7 separate regions of the Homo sapiens genome follow, and regions 1, 3, 4, 5, 6 and 7 are each linked to region 2. The links come from fine-mapping of genetic effects on gene expression. A gene starts in region 2. Each other region holds a variant in brackets. All regions are shown on one strand. Distances are between the middles of the regions.

Region 1 (4,000 bases), 22 kb after region 2:
TGCAGTCCATTCCCCGGATGTCTGATGTGGGCGGCAGCACAACACGTTGCTTGGAGGGGCAGTGAGGTCATTCCCACAATTCTGAAGAAGGGTCAGTGGACTGTGTGCTCAGCAGGGAGGGCTGATGGGCCAGACTTGTGGATCACTGACAGCCGGGTCGGAGGGGGGGCTCACCGGGAGGGGTGTCCCCCACCACCCACTCCAGTTCACACTGCTTCTGACTTGTGCCCAGGAGAGCAAGCTAGCCTTCCAGGGGGCCAGAGTAACACTGGGCATCCTCTCGCTGCCTGCTAGGGTGAGACATATGGGACACGTGTGTAGGTGTCTGTCCTCCTTTGATTACTAGTGCTGGGTGGGGGGGGGGGTCCCCAGAGGTCCCCAGGGAGTGCAGAGGCAAAGGCTTAGCATCTGCCCTTGCTGCCTCTCTCCTGGACCAGACTGCTTCCCCTCCTTCTCCCAGGACCTGGCCGTACCTGGAGGGTGGAGCCCTCCGTTGAGCCTGCTTGCTTGAACTTCCCTTCCTCCCCTGCACTAGCAGGCCCCTCAGGCCTCATGGGGACACTCTTCCCCAACCCCCTACCTCACCCCCTCACCCCTCACCTAGAAGGAGGTCAGAAGAATTTGGTGCCATGGAAAGGAACATGGGGCATGGAGCACTTGAGGACACTCCCGGGACCCCCTCTGCAGGGGAAGGTGGAGCTCTGGGGCCAGAGGCTATGAGAGCACCAGCCAGCTCAGTGCACATTTGTCTGAGTCCGGAGTCCCAGTGCTGCTGTGAATGCGCTGAAGGGGTGAGGCAGGGATGGGGTGTTAGGGAGGAAAGAGAACTCTTTGTGAGTCACATTTCAGACGCCTCCATTCCCATTCATACATTAGGGTCTGTGGGGGACTGGGGCACATCAATATATTGTTAGAGAAAAAATGTATATGCAATATAAATGCATTAAGAAAAAAAAACACCCGAAGAAACGATTCTGACATGTTAATAGTGGTTCTATGTGGCAGTGGGATCGAGGATTTTTATACCGTACTTTCATATGTTTTCCAAATTTTCTACACCAAGCACGTGTTAGTTACGTAATTTAAAACTTATTTATTTTTAAACCAAATTCTCCAGCCAACTGTGCTTTTCCCCAGTTGCAGTAACTTTCCTTTCAGTCAGGTTTCTGGGTGAATCCAAAGAACAAGGCGGCCTCTCAAGCCCACATCATGTCACGTTCATATTTTCATTCTTCCTTCGTTGGGCCGGCTCTGCGGAGGCCGAGCGCTGGGGCTGGGGCGAGAACGGTGTCCCTGTCGTCAGGGAGTTTCCAGCTAGTGGCCTTCTCCCGCTTCTCAACCCATCCCCTCCCCTGTCCGCCGAGGTCGGGCTCTGACGGGAGCGGGCCGCCCTCCGTCTGATAGGTGCGGTCTGGGGAACTTGAGCTGCCCAGTCTCCCTCCTTCTTTCCCCTGCTGCAGACCCCAACTCTGAGCTTGGGGGACAGGGAGGCCGAAAGGGCCCTGTTAAACGCTGGGTGCTGGGAAGCCGCCCCCTCCAGGGAGCCCTCAGGACCTCAGGCCAGGGCTGGAAGCGAGAGGAGGCCGGAGCCCAGGGAAAACGGGCGACCGGGGGCGGCGCGCGTGTCAGTAAGGAGCCAGGCGGCGGGGACGGAAGCTCCGGGAGGGCGGCGGGCCGGGGCGGGTGTCAGAAGGCTCCGATTGGGCCTTCTGCGGCCCTGCTTCCCCCGCCCCCGAACCCCCCAAAAGCTGCGGGCAGCGGCAGGGCGCCTGCGACACAGGGGCGCGCCGCGCGGGACCTGAGGAAAAGCTACGGCCAAGCCCCGAGCACAGGCGCGCCGCCGCGCTGGCTCCGGGAACGCGGACGCACGGCGGGGCTGCCACAGCAACGCAGACAGGAGCGCGGCGACTGGCGGAACCGCGGAGAGGCGGGACTCAGGAGGCGTCTCGCGAGAGTTAGGCTTCGCGGGCTTCCGGCCGGTGCCGGCCGCGGGGGCCGACGG[G/A]GTTAGGCTTCCGGCGTGGGTTGTGTGGCCTCTCCCAGCTCCACGCGTTTCTGGGCGCCGGGCACTAGGCGAGCCGGCCGGGCTGGCGCGAGGCCGCAGGCGGGAAGAGTCCCCGGGGTCGGCCCCGAAGCGGCTCTGGAGGCAGTAGCCGGGGACGCCGAGGTCAGGGAGGAGGCGGATCCGAGCGCGGTCCCGCAGGGCCCTGTCCGTTCTTCCGCCTCGGCCGGTCCCGTCAGGCCGCCTTTAAATGCCCGGCGCCTCGCACCTGCTAACAAAACGAGCTCCTGCTGTTCCCCAGCTCCGTAAATGGTGCCCCTGGCCCTCCCCAGTTCTCAGGCAGAGCCTTGGCGGCCTCCCTGACCCCTAACACCCCGCATCCAGCCCGGCAGTACATCCTGTTGGCTGTGCCTTCGAAATTTCCCCAGACCTGACCTCTTCTCCCACCTCTGCCACCACCCTGCTCCGAGCCGTCTTTTCCCGCCGAGATGACTGTAGTAGCGTCTCAGCTGGGTCTCCCCGCTTCCACCTTCCCCTCCTGAGTCTCCTCAACACAGGAGCCAGAGCGATCTCGGAAAGTACAGGAGGTCATGCCCCAGTGTGGTTCCCCTTTCCTGGGTTTAAGTCAAGGTCCTCACCGTGCCTGCCGGCCTCCCGGGTCTCTGCGCGGTGGACTCTGGACCTCCCTGCCCCGTCCTGCCTCAGGGCCTTTGCACCTGCTGTTACCGCGGCCTGGAACGCTCCTCCCCTGAAACCCTGTGACTCCCACTTAGTGAGGCGACCACCTGTTGAAAACCGTGCCCCCTTCCTATACAGATGCTCCTGTCATATGGGGTTAGATTCCCCATCAACCCATCATAGGTTAAAGCATTGTAAGGCAATTTACGGTAGGTTTATCCGGATGTAACCCCATCTGTAAGCGGAGGAGTATACTGAATGTGTATGGCGTTTGTACCATGGCAAAGCCAAAATGTAAGTCAAACTCGAAGTCCAGGACGGTCTGTGGCCTGTACTCCCTTGCTTTCCCTCCCCGGCTCTTAGCGCCATCCAGCATCGTTGATAATGTAATTTGATGTGTATTGTCTGAAAGCACCAAGACGGCAGAGTTTCTCTCTTATCCAGATCACAGTGTGTGCTCAGTAAACACTAGACTGAGGGGGTGTATGAGAGGTCTTTTTTTCCTCTCTCCTTCCTCAGGAATGGGTGAAGATGAAGTCCTGTAAGGCAGGAGCTGGATCAAAGAAATATCCCGGGTCTTGTCTGTGTGCAGACTGTTGTTTGAGGACTCTGCTCCAGTTCTAGCAGCGATCGGTGGCTCCCTTGGGTGACTCTCCAGAAGGAAGGGTGCCAGCATGGACTGGTGTCTGCTTGCCAGATGCCCTGAACAGCTCATTCCTCAGGAGGCCAGGGGCGCCTCAGGAAGTGCTGTCAAATGCAATCACTCTCAGAACCCTCTGGGCTGAAAGATGTCATTGATTTATGCTGGCAGCCCCGCGCAGCACTCTGCTAGGTGTTGAATTGTCTGGAGAACACCTGGTATCACCCTCAAGGCCCCTTAGTCTGGTAGGAAGGAATGATGAGGAAGAGGCTGTGTGGAAGTCACAGAGAAGGAGGAGGGTGGGATCAGTTTCCAGGGTGGGGTCTCTGGAAGTCCTCTCAGGGGTTCTCAGGGGGGCATTTCTGCCTAGAGCAGCAGGTGTAAGGCGTGAGCCATGGACGAAGGGAAGGAGCCAGCCATCATTGATCGCCTCCTCTGTGCTGGATGTGGCTCTAGATGTCAAGCTCACATTTACACATTAGCCTTCCTTTACAGAGGAGGAAACAGGCTCAGAAAGCCCCTGACCCCGGTTACACCACTACTAAATGCAGGATTCAGATCTTCAGTTGAGCTCTTTGTGGCCGTGAAGCCTGTCCTCTTCCCAGGGCTCGATGCCACTTCCCAGGCTGGAAGCCAGACAAGCATCCGGGGCTGCCCGGAATTGCATGCAAATGTCCGGACAG
Region 2 (4,000 bases):
CGTCTAAACAGCCTGCCCTGGGCAGGGCAGGGCTCCTCTCCCGCGCCCGCGCGCTCTCGGCTGGGCACGGTCCGGCTCCAGGCCTGACGGGCGCGGCCTCCCCACTGGACGCGTGCGGGAGGGCGGCGAGGCCAAAGCGCTGGGGCCAGGAGGGCACCCGCCTAGCGGCTCCCTACGGGAGTTGGGGCAGAAGACGCCGCGACCCCGCGCGGGTAATTTCTCCCGAGGCGCGTTCCAGCCCGTGGCGCTGCCGGCGCAGACCCCGCGTGGGGACCGGCGAGGCTAACCCCTCCTGCGGCCCGGGGTCGGCAGAGCACGCAAGGGGCCGCGGGCCGCGTGGGTTTGGGCGCGCCGTGGTGGGCAAGCGGGGCCAGCGGAGCGGGAACCCGCACACCCTCCGAGCGGAGCCGAGGACAGGCCCGTGCGGGCCGCGGGGTCCCTCTGGCGCCAGGAAGCGGCGGCCGAAGGAGACAACGAGAACGCAGCCCCGGCTCAGGGAGGCTTAAAAGCTGAGATGCTGAACGCAGACGGCGGGCGCTCGGGGGCTGGGGGGCGGGTAGAGGCCGCCATTTCTCAAAAAGGTCTCCATCGAGCCGGCCTCTGCTCCCGCCCGAGGGGCGGACGCCCGATCCCGGCACCCGGGACTGCCCGTGGGTCCCTGCTGGCTGGGGACCCCCAGCCCCCGGCTGCGCGCAGGGAAAGGCTGCAGAACGCAGAGACCAGAGAAGCCGGGGGCGGCGGGGAGGGGTCGGGGGGCCACGGCTGTAGCCCGGCCCCGCAGTCTCGGAGCCTCAGTTTCCTTCTCTGTACCACGGGAGCGTGGACGGAGGGATTTCCGAGGCTTTGACCGCTCTGATAGCCCCGGGGCGGGGCGGGGCGGGGCGGCTGCGCCAGCCCTGGTCCTGAGCCCCCAGCCCGGCGCCGGAACCCGGACCGCGATCTCGGGAGCCGAGCCCCGCGGTCCAGATGAAGGCGCGAGTGCGCGGGTGCCGGGTGGGGTGTCTGAGCGAGAGCGGAGCTTCTCAGGTGGACGCCCCCAGCCACCTCCGGGACCCTTCCTGCTGGCCTTTGGGCCTGAGAAGTGGGCGCGGCTGGACAGACGGGAAACAGCCCCCCACGCACAGGTGGACACCCGGGGATACCGGGCGCGCGCGGCGCCTGGCAAGGGGAAGCTGCTGGAGACGCGGGCGGCTGCTCCCGCGGGGCCCCCTTCCGAAGCGCCGCTGCGAACGTCCAGCCCCGGCGACGCCGCCTGCCCGCGATCGGGCCGGCGCCGCGGACAGGAAAGGCTCGATCAGCTAGGTCTGCCTCCGAGAAGTCCCCAGCGCCCCGCCCGCACGGGGTGGGGACTGACAGTCCCCCGGGGACGGGGCCGGGTCCACAGAGCCCGGGAGCTGGGGGAGGGGAGGCGCCGGGGGCCCCGACCCGTGGGAAGTCCCTGTACCCAGGCTGCCCGGCGGCTTCTCAATAGCACACGGACATCTAAGAAACGCGGGGCGGCCCGGTGACCCCCGCTCTGGACTTAGTGGCGCCGCGAGGCCCCACTCCGAGCCGTTGACCACCGGGCACTCGGGTGTTGACGACCTGGGTCCTTGGGCACCCAGCCCGGCTCCAAACGACCCCGGCCCAAGGGTGTTCAGTGCAGCCAGGAGGGCCGAACCGAATTCTATCTCCCGGACGCGGTGGTTTCCCGCCCGCCTGGAGCCCCGTCGGAGGTTCGGGGACACCACGCAGGTGGTCCATCCTCGAGTCCGGGGCCGGAGCCCGACTTCCTTCCCCCTGAGCTCTCGGAGCCTTCGGGGCAGCAGCGCCGGCCCAGGCGGGGGCGGGGGAGGAGGGGGCCGCGGCAGCTCCCAGAAGGGCGGGGGGGACGCGAGCGGAGGCAGCCCCGGTGGCGCGCTCGTGAGACCCCCGCCGCGCCGCGGGCCCGGGCCGCGGACAATTAAAGCGGGATTCCTCCCCCGCTGACGTCGGCGGCTCGAGGCCCCTCCCGCGGCGGCATAAAAGGCGCGGGCTCCGCAGCGCAGGCGGCAGTGGGGGCCTGATAGCGCGGCGGTGTGGACCGCGCGGCCGAAGAGCGCGGCGCCCAGAGCGCGGGCCGCTCGCGGAGCCACAGCCCGAGCCGGGTCCCAGCCGGAGCCGAGCCCCAGCCGAGCCGAGCCGGGCCCGGAGCGCCCGGTGCCCGCAGCCATGCCGGCCGGCCGCGCCGCGCGCACCTGTGCGCTGCTCGCCCTCTGCCTCCTGGGCGCCGGGGCCCAGGATTTCGGGCCGACGCGCTTCATCTGCACCTCGGTGCCCGTGGACGCCGACATGTGCGCCGCGTCCGTGGCCGCCGGCGGCGCCGAGGAGCTCCGGAGCAGCGTGCTGCAGCTCCGCGAGACGGTGCTGCAGCAGAAGGAGACCATCCTGAGCCAGAAGGAGACCATCCGCGAGCTGACCGCCAAGCTGGGCCGCTGCGAGAGCCAGAGCACGCTGGACCCCGGAGCCGGCGAGGCCCGGGCGGGCGGCGGCCGCAAGCAGCCCGGCTCGGGCAAGAACACCATGGGCGACCTGTCCCGGACACCGGCCGCCGAGACGCTCAGCCAACTCGGGCAAACTTTGCAATCGCTCAAAACCCGCCTGGAGAACCTCGAGGTCCGCGCGCGCCCTCGGCTCCGGTTCCCCCTCCGGCTCGCTCGCCCCTCTGCCCTCCCCCACCCCGTTCCCTACCCGGCCAGGCATCCCCCGCCCTCGCCTCAGCCGCGCGGGTGCCCGGCCGGTGCCTCCCCGCGCCTGCGAGGCCCCGCGGCGGCCACTCGCCCCAGCTCCCTGCCAGGCCGCCCCCGCAGTCGCCCAGAGGGGACCGCGCCGCGGGCCTTCCAGCACGGTCCCCGCGCCTCGCCTAACGGTGTGGTTTCCCCCGCCCTTGCACCCCGCAGCAGTACAGCCGCCTCAATTCCTCCAGCCAGACCAACAGCCTCAAGGATCTGCTGCAGAGCAAGATCGATGAGCTGGAGAGGCAGGTGCTGTCCCGGGTGAACACCCTGGAGGAGGGCAAGGGGGGCCCCAGGAACGACACCGAGGAGAGGGTCAAGATCGAGACCGCCCTGACCTCCCTGCACCAGCGGATCAGCGAGCTCGAGAAAGGTACTGGGGCCAGGGGGAGCCGTGCTGCCTGCCTGCACCTGCTTGCCCGACCCTGCCTCGGTCCCGATCCCTAACAGCCCAGCTCTGCACTGTGCAAGCCTCAAGCCGCTCCGCTACCCCCAACCCCTGCACCGCTTTCTCATTCCCCGCACCCCTTCCCAGGTTCTGGGCTTCTAGTCGGTGTTTCTATCAGGGCTGGGTGCCTTGGGCTGGGGCTGTCTCTGGGAAAGGGGATTGCATAGTGCCCCCTCCCCCATCCAGACACACTCACACACTCGCTGGATTTTTCAAGTCTGATTTGTTTAATCCTCAGTAACTTTGCACAGTGGCTGTCGCTGGCTCAAACCCTCCCTGCTTAAGAAAGCCTGTCTCTCCCTGGTCCCCAGCCTCAGCGTACAGCTGGGTGCAGGCTGGGGCTGGGCGCTCTCGTTCCCCGGGCCGCTGAGGCTGTTAAGCAGGTTTCTTCCCGGCTGCCATGCCCCCGGTGTCCTCTCAGGATCTCCAGCTCCTCCCCACTTCTGTCCTGAACCCCTACCCTGAGGTTTTCTTTTCTGAGTGACCCAAGTCCTGGCATCTTTCAAATCCCTGAGGTTTCTCAGTCACCAACTCAGGCCAGCCAGTCTATCACCCAGGGCGCCTGGATGAGCGCTGGAGGCTCTGTCTTGAAGTCGCAGAAATCAAACAAGGTTGTAAAAGGGGAGGGGGGGGGGTGCCCGGTGCGGAGCAAGGCCACGTGACCCTGCTCAGACCGCAAAATGTGCCGGACAGATTTAAACAGTGCCATCTTAAGGCTTGTTATGTAACTGAAAAACAGATCAGAAGGAAGGACCTCAGGAGGGAGGGAGAGGGAAGGAGCGGAGATTGGGGAATGAAA
Region 3 (4,000 bases), 190 kb before region 2:
ACGCCTGTAATCCCAGCTACCCGGGAGGCTGAGGCAGGAGAATCGCTTGAACCTGGGAGGCGGAGGTTGCGGTGAGCTGAGATCGCGCCACTGCACTCCAGCCTGGGCGACAAGAGTGAAACTCCGTCTCAAAAAAAAGAAAGAATGAACTACTGTATGCAACAGGGATGAGGTCAGGGAAGTTCCCCAGAAACCACTGGTGCTATTAATGCAGCAAGGGCAGCACTCCGGGTGTTCTGTGACTTACAGATTCCGTGCAAGGGCAAGAGAAGAAGAATTTGGACTCAGCTTTCAGGGAAGGCAGGCCAGGACCAGTGGCCTGTGCAGCAGCTGGGAAATGCCCCCTACCCACATTCCCACGCCCTAGAAAGCCCCAGAAGCCCCCAGCCCCTGGCTGCTCCTGCTGAGCCAGCAGAACGGGCAGGTCCCACCACCTCCCTCGGTGCACACTTAGGGTAGCCTGGCCTCCGGCAAGCGTGTCCCCGAGCAAAGCCCTGGCTGCAGGGGCACCTGGCTCTCCAGCCTCTGTGGTGTGAGAAGCACCCGGGAGGCAGCAGACCCACAGCACTGCCACAGCTACTAAAGCTCTTTCTTTCATTGATATTCAACTCGTCCTTTACAGAATACTGGACAGAATAAAATCTGACCTTTAAAACAGTTGTTCTTCTCTGAAATCATGGGAACAACATTCTCATGCTCAAACCCGAATGCGGACAAGCCGCTGTCCTGAGACTAAACTCCAGCAGGACCCGCTCTGCCTGTGATCCCTGGGGCAGCCGCTCTGCTGAACAAAAGGTTTCTAACAATAAACAATGAGGAATAATGACTGCCAGGTAGCTGGACAGAAAAGAGGAGATCCCTGTGACGCAAGTGACCTAAAGAGCTGGTTTTCACTTGTAAAAGCATAGGCATACGGCTGAGAACTGCTGAGGCGTGCAAACATGGGAGACGGGGGTGTCATCTTCTCTGACACTGGTCATTGTTTTATTTTGCTGTCTGCTTGTGAGGAGGTCCTTTCTCCAGAAGCCTGGAAGAATGGCCATGGCCGACTCTGGGAGAACAAGTGCATGCTGAGGGGACAGGGCGCGAAGACCTCCTGCGGCCACCTATCAAAGGCCTTTCTACAAAGAACACAAGCCTGCTCTATGACCTCAAGTAATACTTAGAACCCAGGCCTGCCAGCCTAGGAACATGATGAAAATTATCTCACTCTGTACTTTATAAAGGCTAGTAATGAGTAAAAATGGATGGAGATGGAAGAAACTTGGAGATTATCAGGCAACCTCTCAGTAGCCACCCTCCTTGACAAGTTGAACCCAAAAGAACTCACTAGGATAAACTTTGTCTAGTGGAGGCCCAACCTGCCTCTCCGCTACCCCTCAGGCCTGCTACACTAAGGGAAATGTGGTAACTGTTTACTGCTGTGGTATCTGAAACCTGCACTGAAGAACAGGGCAGGTTAGATGCCCGCGCCTGAAACCAGACGTTTCCTCTGTGCAGCTTCCATGTCATCTGTTTGCATTAAACCCCCTGTGGTTCCAGAATCCCATCTGAAGGTCGTTCTGCCCACGGCATTTTTGTTGCTGACAGAATGGCAGACCCTTGTGGATTTTCCCACTAAAATGATTTCACAGAAAGGTTAACTTTTTTCTAAATGCCAGGCTGCCGGTGGGAACCGAATGAATGAAAAGCAGTCACCTGCATTATCACAATCACAATTACACCACTCATTTCACTGAAAATCTTTCCAATCACCTCTGCAGGCTTAAGTCCAAACTGCAGTTAGTATCAAGCAAATGAAGGAGCCTCCATATTTGTCCCATGAAACCACAAAGAATACTAACATTCTCTCCCGTGTGTCAACAACTTGTTATCTTTGTCCCAAGAGACTCAGCTAAACAAAGGTCATGGGTGCGAAGGGCTTACTATTTGCTATGACTTCCACTGACATCTTTTAAATGGGAAGATAA[A/G]TTATGCAACTTTATTAACTCTGGGCATCTTAAGTCAAAATAGTCAAGAAAAAGAAACTTCGAAAGTGGGATGAGTAGAAAAAAGAGCACCTCACGATGCACTTGTCAGCAAGGAAGGCGATCAAGTCCTTATTCTGTATCCACTCAAACACCTGTTCCTTATTCCAGTAGGAACAAATGCAGAGTCCAGCCTGCTCCTCTGGCTTCCACTGGAATGTCTGCTCACACTTTGCCCACCTTGCCCAGCCCTGGTCTCCCTTCGCTCCCAGCTCAGACGTCACCACCTCTATGGAGCTTCCCCCGGCTGTCCCCCTCCAGCCTCTCCAAGACCCGTCTAACTCTTCCAATGTGGTATGGACTTACTTCCCTGCCTCCCTGGGGGGCAACAAGCTGTACTGGAAAGATCAACATGCACCGGGGCAGGGATCCAGCAGAACCTACCATCAGCACTGGCACGCTGGGAAAGGGACGTGGAGACGGGAACGCCTTCCTCCCGGGGTTATTGGGAAAATCCAGGCCCTGATGAATCAGTGTCCTAACCACACAGAATGCACTCAACAAGTGCCACCTACTGCATTCCTTGAGTAGACAATTCCTGGAGTGCTGTTGGCTGGACTATAAAGCCTTCTCTGAGGATACGGTAGTGGCCTAGAAGGCTCGATCAGAGGACACGGGCAGTAATTCGCATGGCTTCTGGTCAAGAGAACTCGCCATCACCCTTCACAGACAGCATTCTTCCTTTCAAGGCGCTGCCTCAGTTTACCATCCACTCCTTAGGTGGGTTCTCGGACTGCTCGGCCACCCATCTCCCCACGAGGCTCTGCACCACTACAGCAGGGGCAATGTTGGGCGCTGCTCACAGAGGCTGAAGCACAGTGGAATCCCAATAAACATTTGCTGAATGAATGAATGAATGATGTTTATTTTCCCTATCAGACTTAGAATTCTTTGCCAGTAGGAGGTATCACTTATTGTTATATCCACAGCAACTAGCAAAGTGACGCATATATGGCCAATAATCAACATTTTGCTGCGTCCAACCAAGCAGTCATTTTCATCCTTGCGCCCTTCCTACACTCTGCCCAGGCTGTGATTAGATTCCGGGTCACTTGTTTCGGCCTCACCTATACTCACGGCAAGGACCTAACTCTTCAGGGTCACCCTGAAGACAGCGGTAGCTTGTCCTAGCACTTCTTCTAGTCTCCATCTTCTGTGTCTGCAGCAGGCTTGATCGAGGGAGAGGGAACAAGAGTCTTCTTAAACTCATAGCAAGAAGAAAGAGTAGATAATAAACGTAATTTATTTTGGCAAACCAACTTTGGAGAAGAATAATATTTTAGATAATATCAAGGAGAAAGAGTAGATAATAAACATAATTTATTTTGGCAAACCAACTTTGGAGAAGAGTAATATTTTAGGTAATATCAAATGGCAAGATTTTTACTATTTCATATTGAAAGGCATCGAAAGTATAGCTCTTTGAGGGACAGTCACTAAAAATAAAACGTTTGTCCTCCCTGCTCAGCCCACAAGTCCCAGTCAAGGCATGGTAAACATTTCACAACAGACGCAGGATACACGGGCACAGGCAGATGGGAGGGAGAGATACTCAGTGGCCTCCAGGGTTACGAGACAAACAAGACTTCCTTCATCTTTCCGACGAAGATCTTCCAAGAGTTCTTCATACTTTATATCATTTCTAAAGAAAAATTTTTGGGGGGCCGGGCGCGGTGGCTCACGCCTGTAATCCCAGCTGTGGGAGGCCAAAGTGGGCGGATCACGAGGTCAGGAGATCGAGACCATCCTGGCTAACACGGTGAAACCCCATCTCTACTAAAAATACAAAAAAATTAGCCGGGCATGGTGGCGGGCGCCTGTAGTCCCAGCTACTCGGGAGGCTGAGGTAGGAGAATGGCGTGAACCTGGGAGGCGGAGGTTGCAGTGAGCCGAGATCACGCCACTGCACTCCAGCCTGGGTGACAGAACGAGACTCTGTCAGGAAAGGAAAGGGGAAAGGAAAAGGAAAGGAA
Region 4 (4,000 bases), 47 kb before region 2:
TGCCATGGTTTGCATGATGGTGTCCCCTCAAAAATTCATATGTTGACATTTACTCACCATTGTAATGGGATTAAGAGGTGACACCGTAAGAGGTGATGAGGTCACGAGGGTGGAGACTTCACGGATGGAATTAGGGTCCCTATCAAAGGGCCAGAGGGAGTGGGTCCACCATGTGAGGCCTCAGCATTCGCCCCCTCCCAAAGATGTAGCCACTAGACCATGTTGGAAGAGAACACGGGCCTTTGCCAGGGGGGCTGGGAGTCCGAAATCCGGGGCTCAGCAGGTTCGCTGTCTGGAGAGGGTCCAGCCTGGCTTCCAAGATGGCACTTGGAGCACTGCCTCCTCCTGGTGGGGGGGACGCTGTGTCCTCACGTGGTGGAGGGCAGAAAGGCAAGAGGGACAAACTCCCTTCACCAAAGCTCTTTTATTAGTAGTAGTATTTTTATGGTAGGGTCTCGTTCTGTTTCCCAGGCTGGAGTGCAGTGGTACAATCACAGCTCACCATGGCCTTGACCTCCTGTACTCAAGTGATCCTCCCGCCTCAGCCTCCCAAATAGCTGGGACTAAAGTCATGTGACACCACTCCCAGTTTTTTTTTTTTTAGAGGCAGGGTCTCACTATGTTGCCCAGGCTGGTCTTGAACTCTTGGGCTCAAGTGATCCACTCACCTCGGCCTCCCATAGTACTGGATTGCAGGCGTGAGCCACTGTATCCAGCCTCAAAGCCCTTTTATAAGGGCACTAATCCCTTTATGGAGGGAGGCGTTCTCTTGACTTAATCACCTCTTAAGGCAATTAGGACACAGGGACATGAAGTTTCAACACAGAATTTTGGAGAGGACACACTCAAACCACAGCACACATGCACCAGACTTTCCTTCCTTTGTAAGTTAAGGCTGAATAATGTTAGGGGCAGATGATTCTTGGCTGTGAGTCCATCTGCTGTAGGCGTCGAGCAGCGTCCCTGGCCTCTATCTACCAGATGCTACTGTACCTCCCTCCTCCCAATTGTGACAATTGAAAAGGCCTCTAGACTTTGCCAAATGTCATCTGGGGGCCAAAGTCTTCCCTGATCTGGGAATCACTCTTCTGTGCACACCCACCTCTGAAGACTTCAGTCTCTCTGCATCTACCTGCGTGCCCCAAAGAATAGCCGCAGCTCGGCAAAGAGGCAAGGGCTGAGGTGGCTCAGGAATGTGTCTCCAGCGTCTGGCTGGCTGCAGCCTAGATCCCAAATCCAATCAGAAAGTTACAGCCACACACATCTCATATCAGCACTGCTTAATAGCATTAGGGCAGATTTTCCCATAGCCATTTTTAATATTAAAAAAACAACCCTCTCTTCTCAGAGCCACGTTAAGCATATGGCAAGCTGTGCACTGGCTGTGTGGCCTCCTGCAAGCTCAGCGCCTGCCTCCTGTTTTCTTGCATCAGGGAAGACACAAATCCTGCTTAGAGTCAAACCTCAGGAGATGTGTGAAGCATGTAAAAGTTAAAGATAAACAGGCCTGCTTTGCCCTTGGACACATAAGCTGGATTTTCTGCAGTAATCCAGGCCCTTCACCAAAAAAGCCAAGAGCAAGAAAACCTTCCAGCACAATCCGTAACAACACTCCCCCCGCCGTCCCCCCCACCCGGCCCCAAAACAGCGAGTCTGGTCTGGCAGTCGAGGCAG[C/G]TGACAGCCACAACTCGGGCAGAGTTTCAGCGAGTGCACCCTCCTCCCAGACGCTGCCAGCACAGCTCGGTTTTGATCCACAAACATTCCAAGTTTCAACTCAAGCTCCATATAGCTCTGCTAATACCCATCAGCCCTCAGACAAAATCTTTTATTTCCTAGTAAGCCTGGAATAAAAAAGATGAATTCGCAGGGGATTTAGGAGGGAAACAAAGACACCCGATCCCCTCAGGATGATCTTGACAGAGAATAAATTATGTTTGCTCAAGTATGGTTCATCAGGCATTGATTAAGAGTCATAGCATTTTGGAATTGGAATCAGAAAACTTTATAGTGGGGAAAAAAGAACTCTCCCTTCCAGGGCCGAGGAGCAGTAGTCGTCCATCTTCTTTTGGAACATTCCAGAAAGGTGGCAGCTTTGCCCCAATTCTCACCACCCCTCCCTGTGTCCCTGCCCTCTGTCATGTGACTTGCAGCTCCTCCCACATAGGCAGAATCTGCTTCCCTGACCCTGGACGTCCAGTGTGGCCTTGAGGCTAGCTTTGGCCAGCAAGACAGGCAGAGCAAAGCCAGGGGCTTGCAGACGTGCGTGCGTGGGTGGGCTTGCCTTCTGTTGCCTCTGCCGTCACCAGGACAAGAAGCTGCCTCAGTAAGCCGAGCGAGCCCAGGAGGGTGGGAGACCCAGCCCAATCTGTGGTGTGAGGCAGAGCCATGCCAGCCACAGGCCCAGGAAATCAGTGATGCTGAGCTAGCCCCCGAGCTTGGGACTGGTTTGGCATTCATCATTATTGTGCCAATAACTGGCCAATACAGAAACTTGCTAAGCCCTGAGTGCTAGTGCAGCCCCTGAGGTCCTGTTTGTTACCAGGCATTAGCTGACCCATGCATATGAGCAGTGCTCTGTATCACAGCAGCCCAGTCCCTTTGCCACATCATGCATTGCCAGACAGTGACCAGCATTTGCCTCTTTCCCGCCAGGCTTGGCTGATCCCGACCTTGGAAGCAATCCTGAATATGGGCCAGCAAGTCTAGGTTCGGCTGCCTGACAGCTGTTTCTTGACAGCTCTCAGGTTCCCCAAATATCCCTACCTCTTTGGAATGCTGGGGAGACCCCAGTTACGGAGAAAACATAGTTCTGCCCAAGGCAGGTGGTATCATGGGAAGGCAGCGTCTCCTACAGATATCCCTGCTGCTGCCCACCTCATCCCCACTCCCTACTCCCTCCCCTGCACCTCCCCCAGGCTCCGGACCTCCTCCAGCCCACCACCCCCCACTCTGCTTTTCCCTCCAAGGCTGGCAGCTCCAGCAGCCCCACCCTCCACACCTGTCCCCTTCTTGGTTCATCACCAAGTGACTTGTCCTGAACAAATATTTGCACACCCATGTTCCTGGCATCTTTATACACAACCAAAAGGCAGAAGCAACCCAAGTGTTCATTGCTAGGTGAACGGATACGCAAAACTTGGTGTCTCCATACAATGGAACCTTATTTAGCCTCGAAAAGCAGTGAAACACTGACACAGGCTACAACACAGAGGAGCCTTGAGGACATTATGCTAAGCGAAAGAAGCCAAATAAAAAAGAACAAATGCTGAGCTGGGTGCGGTGGCTCACGCCTGTAATCCCAGCACTTTGGGAGGCAAGGCAGGTGGATCACCTGAGATCAGGAGTTTGAGACCAGCCTGGCCAATATGGTGAAACCCTGTCTCTACTAAACACCCAAAAATTAGCCGGGTGTGGTGGCGGGCGCCTGTAATCCTAGCAACTCTGAAGGCTGAGGCAGGAGAATCGCTTGAACCTGGGAGGCAGAGGTTGCAGTGAGCCGAGATCAAGCCACTACACTCTAAGCCTGGACGATAGAGCAAGACTCCGTCTCAAAGAAAAAAAAATCCTGTCAACTTCCACTCGCATGAAGCCCCTAACACAGTCAGACTTGCAGAGACAGAAAGTGGAATGGAAACTGCCAGGGCCTGGGGGCGGTGGGTGGGGTGGAGAGTTTATGTTTCATGGGGACAGTTTCTGTTTGAGAAGATGAAAATGCTCTGGAGAAGGATGGCGGTGAAGGCTGCACAATCATGTGAATGAGCCAAATGCCCCGGAACTGTGCACAAAAGTGAGTACAAGGGTACATTTTATGTTATTTGTATGTTTCTACAATTTTTTTTTTTTTAGATGGAGTTTCGCTTTTTTGCCCAGGCTGGAGTGCAGTGGTGCGATCTTGGCTCACTACAACCTCCGCCTTTTGGTTTCAAGCAATTCTCTTGCCTCAGCCTCCCGAGTAGCTGGGATTACAGGCGCCCGCCACCACACCCAGCTAATTTTTGTA
Region 5 (4,000 bases), 310 kb before region 2:
ACAGTTTGATGCATTCCTGATTTTGGATTTTTAGATTTGGGATACGCATCCGGTGTGTGTGTGGGGAGGGCGCAGGGGTGGCGGGGGCAATATATACGTTACAGGTAATAGAGAGCTCTAAAACTCAGAAAACAGAGGGGGAAATAAAAGCCCCAAAGAAAGCGCACAGCAATACCAGTAAACAGATCTCAAGAACAGCTTCGCAAAACTGCAGTCTCGTCAGGGAACCAAACCAACCAGAAGGGGAGGGGAGCACAGATCATCTAGTCCCATTTTTTTTTTAAAGTTATTTTCCACGTGATGCTTCTGAGAGCCTCCACTATCTGTTTAGCCTTTGGAAACAGTCTTCTAAGTCACAGCTTGCACTGTTTGGAAAGCCTCTGGGCACTGAGCTCTGTTAGGTACCCATGCTGAGGACTGCTCACTTAGCACATCTGGTAGACCACTCCACATCAGGACCAGTGTCGCTTCCCCGGCCTTCCTGTTGGCCACACAGCCACCTTCCACGGTGGGAGTGAACCACGACGGAGCTCACCGTGCCCTCATGAACGTTTACACATAATATTCTTGCATTTTTCCCCTGATACACAAGGCAAGCACGTTTTTACAAGAGAAACTTGGAAGTGGGGTTGCTTTTCCTGCCTAATTTAGTAAATTCAGGCCCTAATATTAAGATATAACTTTGTATATTAAGATGTAGAAAACAATTATCTTGCATGTTAATTCTAGAAGAAATGGGGTTCTGAGCCAAAGGGTTTAAAATAACTCCAAAGTTCTTCCATACTGCCTGGATGACTCAGGATGAGTCACGATGAATCCGGTGCACAAACAAACAGAACAAGGCAGTGCAGGCCACGCTCCGGGTCCTGAAACACCACTTCAGATCCAAAAAGATCACGCGAGGGACAGACGGGTTGGCCAATGGGACTGGAAGGATTATGGGAGGCAAGTGCCATTGACTCTTCATAGGCCTGACTAAATCCCGTCACTTCATCGCTCAGGTTCTGAAATCAGTTTGCCCTGAGATAGTAAAATGGAAACTGGATGGCGACAGGGGGGGAGGGGATGGAAAGTTACAGAATATTAAAGGGACAGTTTCAGAAAATAAGGTAAGAGCTAGCTATGATCTAGCTATCATTTCAGTGGCAGCAGAAATGATTTGTATGCGAAGTGGTATGTTCTTGCTTTGGCTTAAAGTCTGGAGACTTTTTAAATGTTCAAAGGAATTCAGCTTTTTATTATTTTTCTTTTCATATGGCCCATGTTTGGTTATCTCCTGCACTAAGCCCCAGTGTGACAATCACAAACACAGCCTTAATCAGAGAACAAAAGAACACAGCCACATGAAAGGGAACATGCCATGTTGATAGAAAGTACTTCTGAGAAGCAAGAGCCTTCAAAAAGGAAAAGAAACTCATCAGATCCAGAGAGCCACAAGAGCTTAAAAATCCTACTTACTTTTCTATCAAATCCAGTGTGACGCCAGGCACCAGACTGACACATTTCTGCATGCAAAACCTGCAGAGAAAGAAAAGAATGTGAACGGCA[T/C]GAATGGAACAGTCACCCAGGAAATTCAACAGGCCTGCAGAAAAAGGGAAGAGTTAAAGGTGGGGACAGGGACTACCACGGTGAACAAGTACACTCAGATTTCCTTAATTCGGCAGCTTTTAGATTTGTAAAGAAAATCTCATTGCCATTCTGTCAAGGCGTGAGACTACAGAGCTGCCACAGTGAGTTGTCAGGAGAAAGGAGAGAAGCCGTTTGCAGCCACATGAAGCCCGGTCCCTGGAGAGGAGCGCCGAGATGCTTAATAAAGCTCAGTCTCCAAACGAGATGCTGGAGTGGACTGGACCTGCCACTTCTTTCCTTCTTAAGGAAGTGAGCTGGGGAGACTGCTGGAGTAGAATAAATGAGTAGCCTCAAGACACACAAAAGAAATGCAAATTCAATTATATCATGTTCATAATCATAAAATCCTACAGGTCAGAGCTGGGTTCATGTCTGACGCAGGTCCATCCTTAGGAGCGCGTGTGGAGCCGGACAGGCTTTCTCTAACGTGGCGCCAACAGGAGGTAGGAAAGCATCTCTCCTCCCATCCGGGCTACTGGCATACAGTGGGCAGAATCGAGGCAGCAGAGTAAAAAGGCAATGCAGTATTTTTAGTAGGAGAAATGCAAAATGTTTAATTCACCTACTTTTAAAATTAAGAACAAATAACACCCCTTAAAAACATAATGGCAGGTGCAGAGCAAGTATGCACATCTCCAAAACACACTCGCGGACTGTTGGCTGGAAGTGAGTGATGGCAGAAGTGTTGGCTGGAAGTGAGTGATGGAGAAGGACAGTGGCCCAGGGGAGGGTGCAGTGCAAGGGTCAGGCACGTTCGGGGGAGACGTGGCAGTGACTCCTCTATGGGGGATGGTGGACCCAGGAGGGTACCCATAGCAGTGGGATAGGAAATGGGAGAAAAAGACACAGAGGAACTGAGAGATCCAGAACCAGGAAGACAACGAGCCAGAGGTGTGAAGACAGTCTCACTTTTGCAGCCCTGCAGGGCGAGGGGAGGCTGAGCTGGTCATCCTGGACCCCATGCATGGCTGCCAGCCACACTCACTCTCTCAAGAAGTGATACCTGGCTCAGCCAGCAGAGAGGAAGTTATATTCTTGGTTGTGGCTGCAGTAGTCAGTGTTTTATCGTTCAAAGAGCTGAGAAAATAAAAGTGAGGCCCACGTTTGCCTGAAGCTACAGAGCAGCCCTTTCCCACGGCATCAAGTGCCCCGTGTGGCCCCAGTGCTTCCCCGAGCCAGTCAGTGCCACTCTGAGTGGTCTCCTCTGCTGGCTTCACTTGCAGATGCTCTCCTCAGCCATGCCCAGACACCTCTGCACCAGCACAGACACATGCAGCTCCTACGGTGGTCCCAGGCAAACCAGAATTTCTCTGTGGATAAAAATGATCTACAGGAAATGCATTTTCAAATCTGAGTCCTATGCGAACCATGCTACTTTGTCTTTTTATCCATAATGTACTTACTGATTGGGATTTCTAGAGTCCAGTAATGACAGAATCACTTATATCAGACTCATCCTTTTGCCAATAATGATAAGCTCTGGACAAAATATTAAAAAGCCATTTGAAAATTCTGAACAACAAACAAATGCAGGCAGGAAGGCAGGAAATGGAAGGGCCGTGACCCTTAGAAAATGAGAGTAACTCTGCATGAATCACTTTCATCTGGCTTTTCCCAAGGGTGCTCCTCACTCACAAGTCATGTGGGGGTTAGCATGCGACTGAAAGGCAGCAGCCTTACTGGGTTGAGACCATGCTCAAGGCTGCCTGGATATTGCAGGCAAAAGCCCTAGGAAGAAGGGAGCCAAAACCCTCATGTAAACCTTCCCCGAGTCGGAGGCTGGCTCCTGAAGGGCACGCACACAGGATAATATTCCCAGGATCCCCGTGGAGGACAGCAGGAAGGTTGAAAACGCAGAGTAGAGATTTTGACATCTGCTTGCCACTGTGAAGACAGAGAAGATCAGGTCCTGCCAAACTACAGGGCTTGATCACATCTGAGGACATGGACACCCCAGAGGGATTATGAACCACACCTTAGAACTAAGATCAAAGCCAAAAGAGCCTAGTCCTATAACGAAGCCTCTACAAGATCAGTGTAATTGCCCAAAAGAAAATAACAGAATCTAGAATGTCTACAATGCCTCATCCACAACAGATAGTATACTATCTAAAATCAAGAGAAAAAAGTCAATAAAAACAGATTCATAGTTGGCCAGATATTGGAATTAGTACACAGAGACTTACACATTATAAAAATAATTATTGGCTGGGAGATAAGCATATTATAAATTCAGTGAAAATATAATGTTCCCTTAAATAAAAAATTAAAATGGGAATATCATGCAACTTTATTATAGCATGGCTATATGAATAAGCGTAGCATGGATATATCAGTCACTGATAGTATGCAAACTTCATTTTAGCCAAAA
Region 6 (4,000 bases), 220 kb before region 2:
CCCACAGCACCATCTGGACGCCCACCCTGCGTGGAAGGGGGTGGCTGACCCTACAGCACCCAGGGCTGGCATAAGTCTGCCAGAGTCTGGGCTGGCAGATGCTGAGAGTAGGAAATTGCGTACACCGAACCCAAAGGGACTACAAGGTCACAGTAACTCGTAATGTTCTCAACACGTGTCTGCCCAGTAAGGGCAGAGTTACGTGAAATTTGTAAAATCATCGACTCTTTCCTTTATGTATTATTCAGTAACAATTCTTCCTTCCTTCCTTAATTTGCAGAAGAGGCAGACAAGAACTAGAATAGCTGGTTTATTATTCAAAGTCCAAAAAGAAAAGCTATTGCTTCCAGATGGGGCCAAATCCACTTCTGAAATGGGTGCTCAGAATCCCCCCAATGAACCCGAGAAACACCATCTCCGCTGGGAGCAACTCTGCCCTCGGGGGCACTGGTGTTGTCTGCAGACAGGCTCGGTCGGCACTGCTGGGAGAAGTGGGCCCTGCTGGCATCTGATGGCAATGGCCTGGGGACCTGCTACACATCCTGTGACTGTCCGCACAGCACATGAGCACACGACCACCACAATCATGAATTAGCTGATCCAAATGCCAATCGGGCCAAGCTGGAGAAACTCTGCTTTAGAGGAAACAATGAAGCTTTGATTCCAATGAGGACACGTGGATTCCAGTCTAATACAGCAACAAGAAGCAAGGTAGAAGAAACCATGTACAACATACAGCACTTCCCTAAAGAGAAAACACTGTGTGCGTGTGTGCGTATATAAATGTACCCAAGGTTACGCATACGTGTCATCACATGTGGTACACATATTATTAAAACATTTCAGTGGTGACCTACAGAAGAAAAGATAAAATAGGCTCACCAGGACAGGAAGAGCAGCCAGGCTCCTTTCAATAAACTTCATTTTGTGTATTTAACTTTGGACTCATGAAATATTTTACATAACTACAAAGCAAAATTAATTTTTTTAAAAAGTAATCCAGCCAGGCACAGTGGCTCATGCCTATAATCCTAACACTTTGGGAGGCTGAGGCAGGAGGATCACTTGAGGCCAGGAGTTCAAGACCAGCCTGGGCAACATAGGAAGACTTCATCACTACTAAAAATATAAATAAATAAATTAGGCCAGGCACGGTGGCTCACGCCTGTAATCCTAGCACTTTGGGAGGCCAAGGCAGGTGGATCACCTGAGGTCAGGAGTTCAAGACCAGCCTGACCAACATGGAGAAACCCCATCTCTACTGAAAATACAAAATTAGCTGGGCATGGTGGCATGTGCCTGTAATCCCAGCTACTTGGGAGGCTGAGGCAGGAGAATCGCTTGAACCTGGGAGGTGGAGGTTGCGGTGAGCCGAGATCATGCCACTGCGCTCCAGCCTGGATAACAGAGTAAGACTCCATCTCAAAAAAATAACATAACATAACATAACATAACATAACATAACATAACATAACATAACATAACGTAGCCAGACATGGTGGCGTGCACCTATAGTCTTGGCTACTTGAGAGGCTGAGGTGGGAGGATGGCTTGAGCCCAGGAGGTTGAGGCTGCAGTGAACTATGATTCTGCTACTGTACTCCAGCCTGGGCCACAGTGAGAGCCTGTCTCAAAAATAAATAAATAAAAATACAGGGTAATGTCACTCGACATCTGTGCCTAACCTGAGAAGGAAGGGCGAGTGCCTCAGCAGCGGCTATGCCTCGGCAGCGGCTCTCAGTAACCGCGTCAGTGGCAGTGCTGGTGTTGCTTTCTGAAACTGCCAGGTGTGGTGCAGGATAAGAGAATGGGTAATTACGTTGGTGTTCATGAACAATCTGAGCACTCCATGTGGAAAGAAGCAGATACAGCTGTAGGACCCATGAGAGTAAGCAGACCTTGCAGACCTGAACCTGGATGTGTAAGAGCGCCTTCGTATTTTATCTTTGAAACACCCATAGAGAAAGGGGGCTGAACAAGGGTCAATGAGCAGCCCTGGAGCCCAGATTAAGCTCTCCATACCACTTCCCATGGAAGGAAACCAAGACTCCCTGGAGACAGACACGTGGCTGATTTCAGGCCTAGGGTAGAAGAAGTACAAAATGGCACAGAACATGCTGGCTTGTCATACCATATCAAAATGAAGCAATTGAGGACCGCGAGAACTGCATCACAAGGCTCAGGGGCCAACACAAAGATGGAACGACGTGGACATCGGTGAAGAACGAATAGAGTAAGTCATGCATTCAATAGGGTGGCCACACACGCCACACCACACACACCTATGCGCACACACTGACATGCGTGCACACACACACATCACTCACATCCACACACACCCCCACACTAGTCACCTTTGAGAGA[T/A]GCAGTGAGAAACGAATACAGTAGGTAGTGCCTTCAACAGGGTGGCCACACACACCACACCACACACATACCTATGCATGCACACACGTGCATGCACACACACACGACATGCACACACACATATCACACCCACACACCCCTTACTAGTCACCTTTGAGAGAAGCCCACACACGATTTTGAAAACTGGTTAATAAAGGAAAGTAAGTATTGATGCTGGCTTTCCTCTATGACTGTACCTTGAGCTATCCAAATAATTGATGAGAGGGTTTCTTTATATAGAGATACTCCAGTTAACAAATAAGGACAGCTAAGCACAGTGGCTCGTATCTGTAACCCCAGCACTTTGGGAAGCTGAGGCAGGAAGATTGCTTGAGGCCAGGAATTAAAAACCAGTCTGGGCAACATAGCAAAACCCTGTTTCTACAAGACATTTAAAAATTAGCAAGGCATAGTGTCATGTGCCTGTGGTCCCAGCTACTTGGAAGTCTCAGGTGGGAGGATCACTTGGGCCCGAGAATTTGAGGCTCCAGTGAGCCATGTTTGCGCCACTGCACTCCAGCCTGGGTGGCCAAGTGAGATCCCCTGTTGCAAAAAAAGGAATGAAACAATAACACCATCTTTTCATAATCTCTAATAAATAGATCCAGACAATGATCATCAATAGCTGCTAATATCACAGAGGGACTATCAGATATCCTAAAGTAAGGACACAGCACCACACATGAAACATTCCCTGACTGAACCAGAATCTAGGGGAGCCCGGCTGTGTCCACCACCGAGAGGAAATCCAAGGAGCAGAGGTGAGTGTGGCTCACCCAGGGCAAGGGGGGAGAAGCCACTGACGAGATCGAGACCACGATAAATTCTACAGGCTACATGATCCAGTTTCTTCAACCAATCAACTGCAGAAAGAGACAGGCAGACAGGTGCACAGAGAGTGCTGGGGTGAGGGACTGACTTTTGGATTAATTACATGGATTAACAGAATAGATGAAGTAACTCACAATACATTCATCTCACTTGCATCCTGATTCAAACAAACATTGTGTGTGTGTGTATGTGTGTGTGTGTGTTTAGAAGCATACTTATCTTTAGAGAAAGTAAATATTTCTTTCAGAAATATTGACAGGTGAAATTACATGAAGTCTGGGATTTGCTTCCTAATCAGCCAGGGGAGTGGGAAGGGGGGACTGGGTGGGGGCACAGATGAAAGGAGACTGGAACTGGCAGCTGAAAATGACTGAAGATAGATGATGGGTATATGTTGAAATTTTTCATAATAAAAAGTTTAAAAATAAACAAATGAATAAGCCATAAAAACAAATAAAGAAGCAAATGAGCAAACACGTTTGAAAATGTTTCAATGATTAAAAGACTCTCCCCTAGAATGCTTTTACATATAACTTAATGGTAAAGTAAAGTTTCCTACTTTAATTAGAATCTGCTTGCATGAAGCGTTTCTCCAAGGTGCAGCCAGACATTTTTAAAAGGTGTCCAGACAGGTAGAAATATTAAATGTGTTTTTAGCAAAGGTACACATACCAAAAATCTGAAAGATTATCATACCTAGAAAAATATGTTTTCTATTGAATAGGAGAATGCTTGAGGGCACTGATCAAAAATTTTAAAAATGAAC
Region 7 (4,000 bases), 99 kb before region 2:
CTTTGGGAGGCCAGTTCAGATGGATTGCCTGAGGTCAGGAGTTCAAGATTAGCCTGACCAACACGGTGAAACCCATCTCTACTAAAAATACAAAATTAGCCAGACATGGTGGTGCATGCCTGTAATTTCAGCTACTTGGGAGGATGAGGCTGGAGAATCATTTGAACCTGGGAGGCAGAGGTTGCAGCGAGCTGAGATCGTGCCACTGCACTCCAGCCTGGGCAAAAAGAGCGAAGCTTCATCTCAAAAAAAAAAAAAAAGAATTATGACTGAATAAAGACATTTTCAGAGGCCAGGCATGGGAGCTCACGCCTGTAATCCCAGCATTTTGGGAGGCCAAGGTATGTGGATCGCCTGAGCCCATGAGTTCGAGACAAGCCTGGGCCACAGGGCAAAACCCCGTCTCTACAAAAAATACAAAAATTAGCTGGGTGTGGTGGTACACACCTGCTGTCCCAGCTACACAACAGTCTGAGTTGGGAGGATGGCTTGAACCCAGGAGGTGGAGGTTGCAGTGAGCCAAGGTCATGCCACTTTACTCTAGCCTGGATAACAGAGCGAGACCCTGTCTCAAAAAAACAAAAACACACAAACAAAAAAGATATTTTCAGACTAACGAAGTGAATGTGGCATCAGTAGACCGTCATGAGAAAAGAATTCTGAAGTCTTTCAGTCAAAGTAGGTGGCCCCATAGGAAAGTTCTGAGACGCTAAAGGAAAGGAGAGCGAAGAGTCAAAAGCATGTGCATCAGCCTGAAAGAACAATGACTGCCGAAAACAAGGATGGTAACTTGGGATGTTAAAAATAAAATACTGTACACAGCAATACTCACATACAAGAAACAAACGGATTAAATAATTTCCTAAGTCTTGGGTTGTCTAAGAAAAGAATAAAGGTCATGACGGACGTTGTACTTTTTTCAGTATTCCTACTGTAATTTCTAAGAAACCATTACAAGAGAAAAACAGTGCACTGCTTCAAAAATAGTAAAAGGGAAGAAATTAAATATTTTCAATCTATAAAAAGGCATTTAAAAAAACATTACAGGAAGGACAAATAGAAAGCACAAAAGAGATGGCAGATTTAGGCCCCAATGGCTGTAAGTAGACTAAGTGCTCCAACTGAAAGACAAAAATCATCAGACTGATCTGTTTTAATCCAACTACAAGCTGTTTATAGGAGACATATGAAAAATACAAGGCTACAGAAGTGTTGACTTATATAAAAGGACAAATAAACAAGACTGACACTAACCAAGAGAAAACTGGTGTAACTATCCTGAGACAAAACAGACTGTAAGGCAAAAAGTTTTATTAGGGATAAAGAGTCACTTTACAACAATATAGACTCCAATTTACCAGGAAGATACAACAGTTTTACAACAATATGGCCTCAAAATATAAATGAAGCACAAATGGGCAGAGAATTCTATCTAAATATGTCTAATAAGGAGAATAGACATATTTACAATGATGGTGAGAAGTGTTAATACACCTCTCTGTTACTGATAGAAACAGTCAAAAAAATCAGTAAAGTGTAAATGATTTGTACACCACAAATAAAATATTTGACTTAATGGACACGTATAAAAGGTGGCACCAACAGCTGTAGACACGCATCGTGTTCAAGTACACAGGGAACATTTACAAAAACTGACCACGCACGGGCCTATAAGGGACAGAGCAGCTGAAATTCCAAGCGTGTGCATGCATGTATGCACACGTGTGCACACAGCGGTGCAACCTACACCATCCACAACACGAGGGGG[C/GC]GCCATTCGCACATGGCAACGGTGTGGATGGCTCCCCCTACAGACGTGCGGTGCACCTGCTACTGCCCTGCTGACAGACGTCTACTGATCAAAATGCAATTAAGAAATCAAAAATAAATCCTAGAAAAAGTCTTCTATGTTTAAAAATTACAACACTTTTAAATAATAAATTGATCAAGTCAAAATAAAATTTAGAGAATAATTTGAACTGAACAAAAATACTGTATATCCAGCCAGGCATGGTGGCTCATGCCTATAATCCCAGCACTTTGGGAGGCCAAGGCGGAAGGAGCCAGGATTCAAGACCAGCCTGGGTAACACAGGGAGACCTCGTCTCTGAAATACATAAATATATTTTTAAAAACTACTACTTGTTGAATGCCATTAAGCATTTACATTTCTAAATGCTAAGTGCATACACTAGAAAAGACAAATGGCTGAAAACTAATAAGGTAAGTACTCATCTCAAGAATCTCCCCCTCAAGAATGGCGGAAAAGGTAATAAAACAAACCCAAGGAAAGTAGAAAAAAGGAAATAATAAGATATAAAATAAACTAGGGGGCCAGGCATGGTGGCTCACATCCGTAATCCCAGCACTTTGGGAGGCCAGGGCAGGAGGATCACTCGAGGCCAAGGAGTTCAAGATGAGCCTAAGAAACATAAGAAGACCCTGTCTCTACAAAAAAAAAAAAAAAAATTAAATAAGCTGGGCTTGGTGGCACACATCTGTAGTCCCAGCTACTTGGGAGGCTAAGCGGGGAAGACCGCTTGAGCTCAGGAGTTCAAAGCTGCAGTGAGCCATGATCGCACCACTGCACTCCAGCCTGGGTGACAAAGCAAGATCTTGTCTCAAAAAAACAACAACAAAAAAGAGTGGACGCACAAATCTCAATGTCAGGAATAAAAAGGAAACATTACTACAGTCCCATTGACTTTAAAAAGATCACAAGAGGATGTTACAAACAACTTTATGCCTATAAATTTGAAACCTAGATGAAATAGACAAAGTCTTCTTAAAATGTAACTTGCCAAAACTGACTCAAAAAGAAAAAAAAAACCGGCCGGGCGCGGTGGCTCACGCCTGTAATCCCAGCACTTTGGGAGGCTGAGGCGGGTGGATCATGAGGTCAGGAGATCGAGACCATCCTGGCTAACAAGGTGAAACCCCGTCTCTACTAAAAAAATACAAAAAATTAGCCGGGCGCGGTGGCGGGCGCCTGTAGTCCCAGCTACTCGGGAGGCTGAGGCAGGAGAATGGCGTGAACCCGGGAAGCGGAGCTTGCAGTGAGCCGAGATTGCGCCACTGCAGTCCGCAGTCCGGCCTGGGCGACAGAGCGAGACTCCGTCTCAAAAAAAAAAAAAAAAAGAAAAAAGAAAAAAAAAACCATCTTAAAAGCTTAAATCAGAACTTTAAAAATTTTTTTACAAACAACACTTTCGGATTACATGACCTTATGGGCAAGTTCTACCAGGCATTTGTGGGACAAGTTATTCCCAACCTGGACACGAACTCTCGGGAACTCAAGAATTGACATGAAGCCCAAAACTTCCCCCGACCCAGGCATGTGGGCAGACAGCTGTAGGGCTGACTCTTGCAGCCCTGCTGCCCTGGAAATGCACCAGTTAAGATAAATGGGGAAGGCCAGTGCTAGGAGCTGGTTCTCCATCTGGGTTCCCATGAGCCTTCTGATCTGTGGGATGTCCTGGAGTAGAGGGGTGTAAGGTGGCCTCATGATTAGAATGACACTCAAGACCAGCATGAAACCACGGCTGGCTCCTCTGCATCCACACCCCTTACATAACTGCATCCGATCCCCAGCAGCCTTACACACTCTTCAGGATCAAGGGGGCAGGAAGCTGTGTGCATGGCTGCCAGGGCTCCTGATGACATGGAGATATCATGAATGCTGCATATAAAGCAATATAAAAAATAATTTTTACTCTTATATACCTACCAAATAACAGGCTAAAAACTTAAATTTTTTAAAGTTGCCTCTTAGGACAGCATCAAAATAATATCAAGTACTTAAAAGAATTCCAACAAAAGATGGGCAACACCTCTACAGGGAAAAGCATATAACTTAATTCAGGGAAATTAAAGAAGACCTATCTAAATAAGAGATATGCCATGTGTGTGGACCAGAAGTCTCAATTCTGAAAAGATATCAAATCTGTCCAAATTGATGTATAGGCTCAGTGCAATCCCAATCAAATACCCCCCAAATTTTCTT

Direction of the effects. Alleles are on the strand shown, and positions count from the first base shown. SD is a standard deviation of normalised expression in the study named. Not every link is listed here.
For the expression in sigmoid colon of the gene that starts at base 2,030 in region 2, allele G in region 4 goes with a lower level than allele C (small effect, 0.18 SD a copy in GTEx).
For the expression in lymphoblastoid cells of the gene that starts at base 2,030 in region 2, allele T in region 5 goes with a higher level than allele C (small effect, 0.35 SD a copy in TwinsUK).

The links. PIP is the estimated chance that this variant, and not a neighbour inherited with it, causes the effect.
Region 1: its variant is fine-mapped to the expression of NPTX1 in whole blood (TOPMed, PIP above 0.99).
Region 3: its variant is fine-mapped to the expression of NPTX1 in whole blood (TOPMed, PIP above 0.99).
Region 4: its variant is fine-mapped to the expression of NPTX1 in sigmoid colon (GTEx, PIP above 0.99).
Region 5: its variant is fine-mapped to the expression of NPTX1 in lymphoblastoid cells (TwinsUK, PIP 0.95).
Region 6: its variant is fine-mapped to the expression of NPTX1 in unexposed skin (GTEx, PIP 0.97).
Region 7: its variant is fine-mapped to the expression of NPTX1 in whole blood (TOPMed, PIP above 0.99).

What each region holds. Positions count from the first base shown.
Region 1 is chr17:80,452,727-80,456,726 of GRCh38, reverse strand. No RefSeq gene overlaps it. Among named protein-coding and RNA genes, the nearest start is that of NPTX1, 22 kb to the left of the region's middle. RefSeq lists silencers at 1,544-1,803, 2,064-2,273 and an enhancer at 1,481-2,310. The variant G/A (reference allele first, on the strand shown) is at 2,003.
Region 2 is chr17:80,474,637-80,478,636 of GRCh38, reverse strand. It overlaps NPTX1 (neuronal pentraxin 1), which reads left to right and starts at 2,030. Exons shown (of 5, transcript NM_002522.4): 1 at 2,030-2,634; 2 at 2,919-3,126. The coding sequence starts at 2,191. RefSeq lists an enhancer at 3,043-3,576.
Region 3 is chr17:80,665,532-80,669,531 of GRCh38, reverse strand. All of the region lies in intron 3 of RPTOR (regulatory associated protein of MTOR complex 1), which reads right to left. Among named protein-coding and RNA genes, the nearest start is that of RPTOR, 120 kb to the right of the region's middle. The variant A/G (reference allele first, on the strand shown) is at 1,971.
Region 4 is chr17:80,521,786-80,525,785 of GRCh38, reverse strand. No RefSeq gene overlaps it. Among named protein-coding and RNA genes, the nearest start is that of RPTOR, 21 kb to the left of the region's middle. The variant C/G (reference allele first, on the strand shown) is at 1,675.
Region 5 is chr17:80,788,968-80,792,967 of GRCh38, reverse strand. It overlaps RPTOR (regulatory associated protein of MTOR complex 1), which reads right to left. Exons shown (of 34, transcript NM_020761.3): 7 at 1,459-1,518. Among named protein-coding and RNA genes, the nearest start is that of CHMP6, 200 kb to the left of the region's middle. RefSeq lists a silencer at 2,633-2,712. The variant T/C (reference allele first, on the strand shown) is at 1,549.
Region 6 is chr17:80,689,764-80,693,763 of GRCh38, reverse strand. All of the region lies in intron 3 of RPTOR (regulatory associated protein of MTOR complex 1), which reads right to left. Among named protein-coding and RNA genes, the nearest start is that of RPTOR, 150 kb to the right of the region's middle. RefSeq lists an enhancer at 1-59. The variant T/A (reference allele first, on the strand shown) is at 2,365.
Region 7 is chr17:80,573,294-80,577,293 of GRCh38, reverse strand. The region is part of intron 1 of RPTOR (regulatory associated protein of MTOR complex 1); the gene reads right to left. The region is part of intron 2 of LOC105371922 (a long non-coding RNA gene); the gene reads left to right. Among named protein-coding and RNA genes, the nearest start is that of RPTOR, 30 kb to the right of the region's middle. RefSeq lists an enhancer at 1,651-1,945. The variant C/GC (reference allele first, on the strand shown) is at 1,769.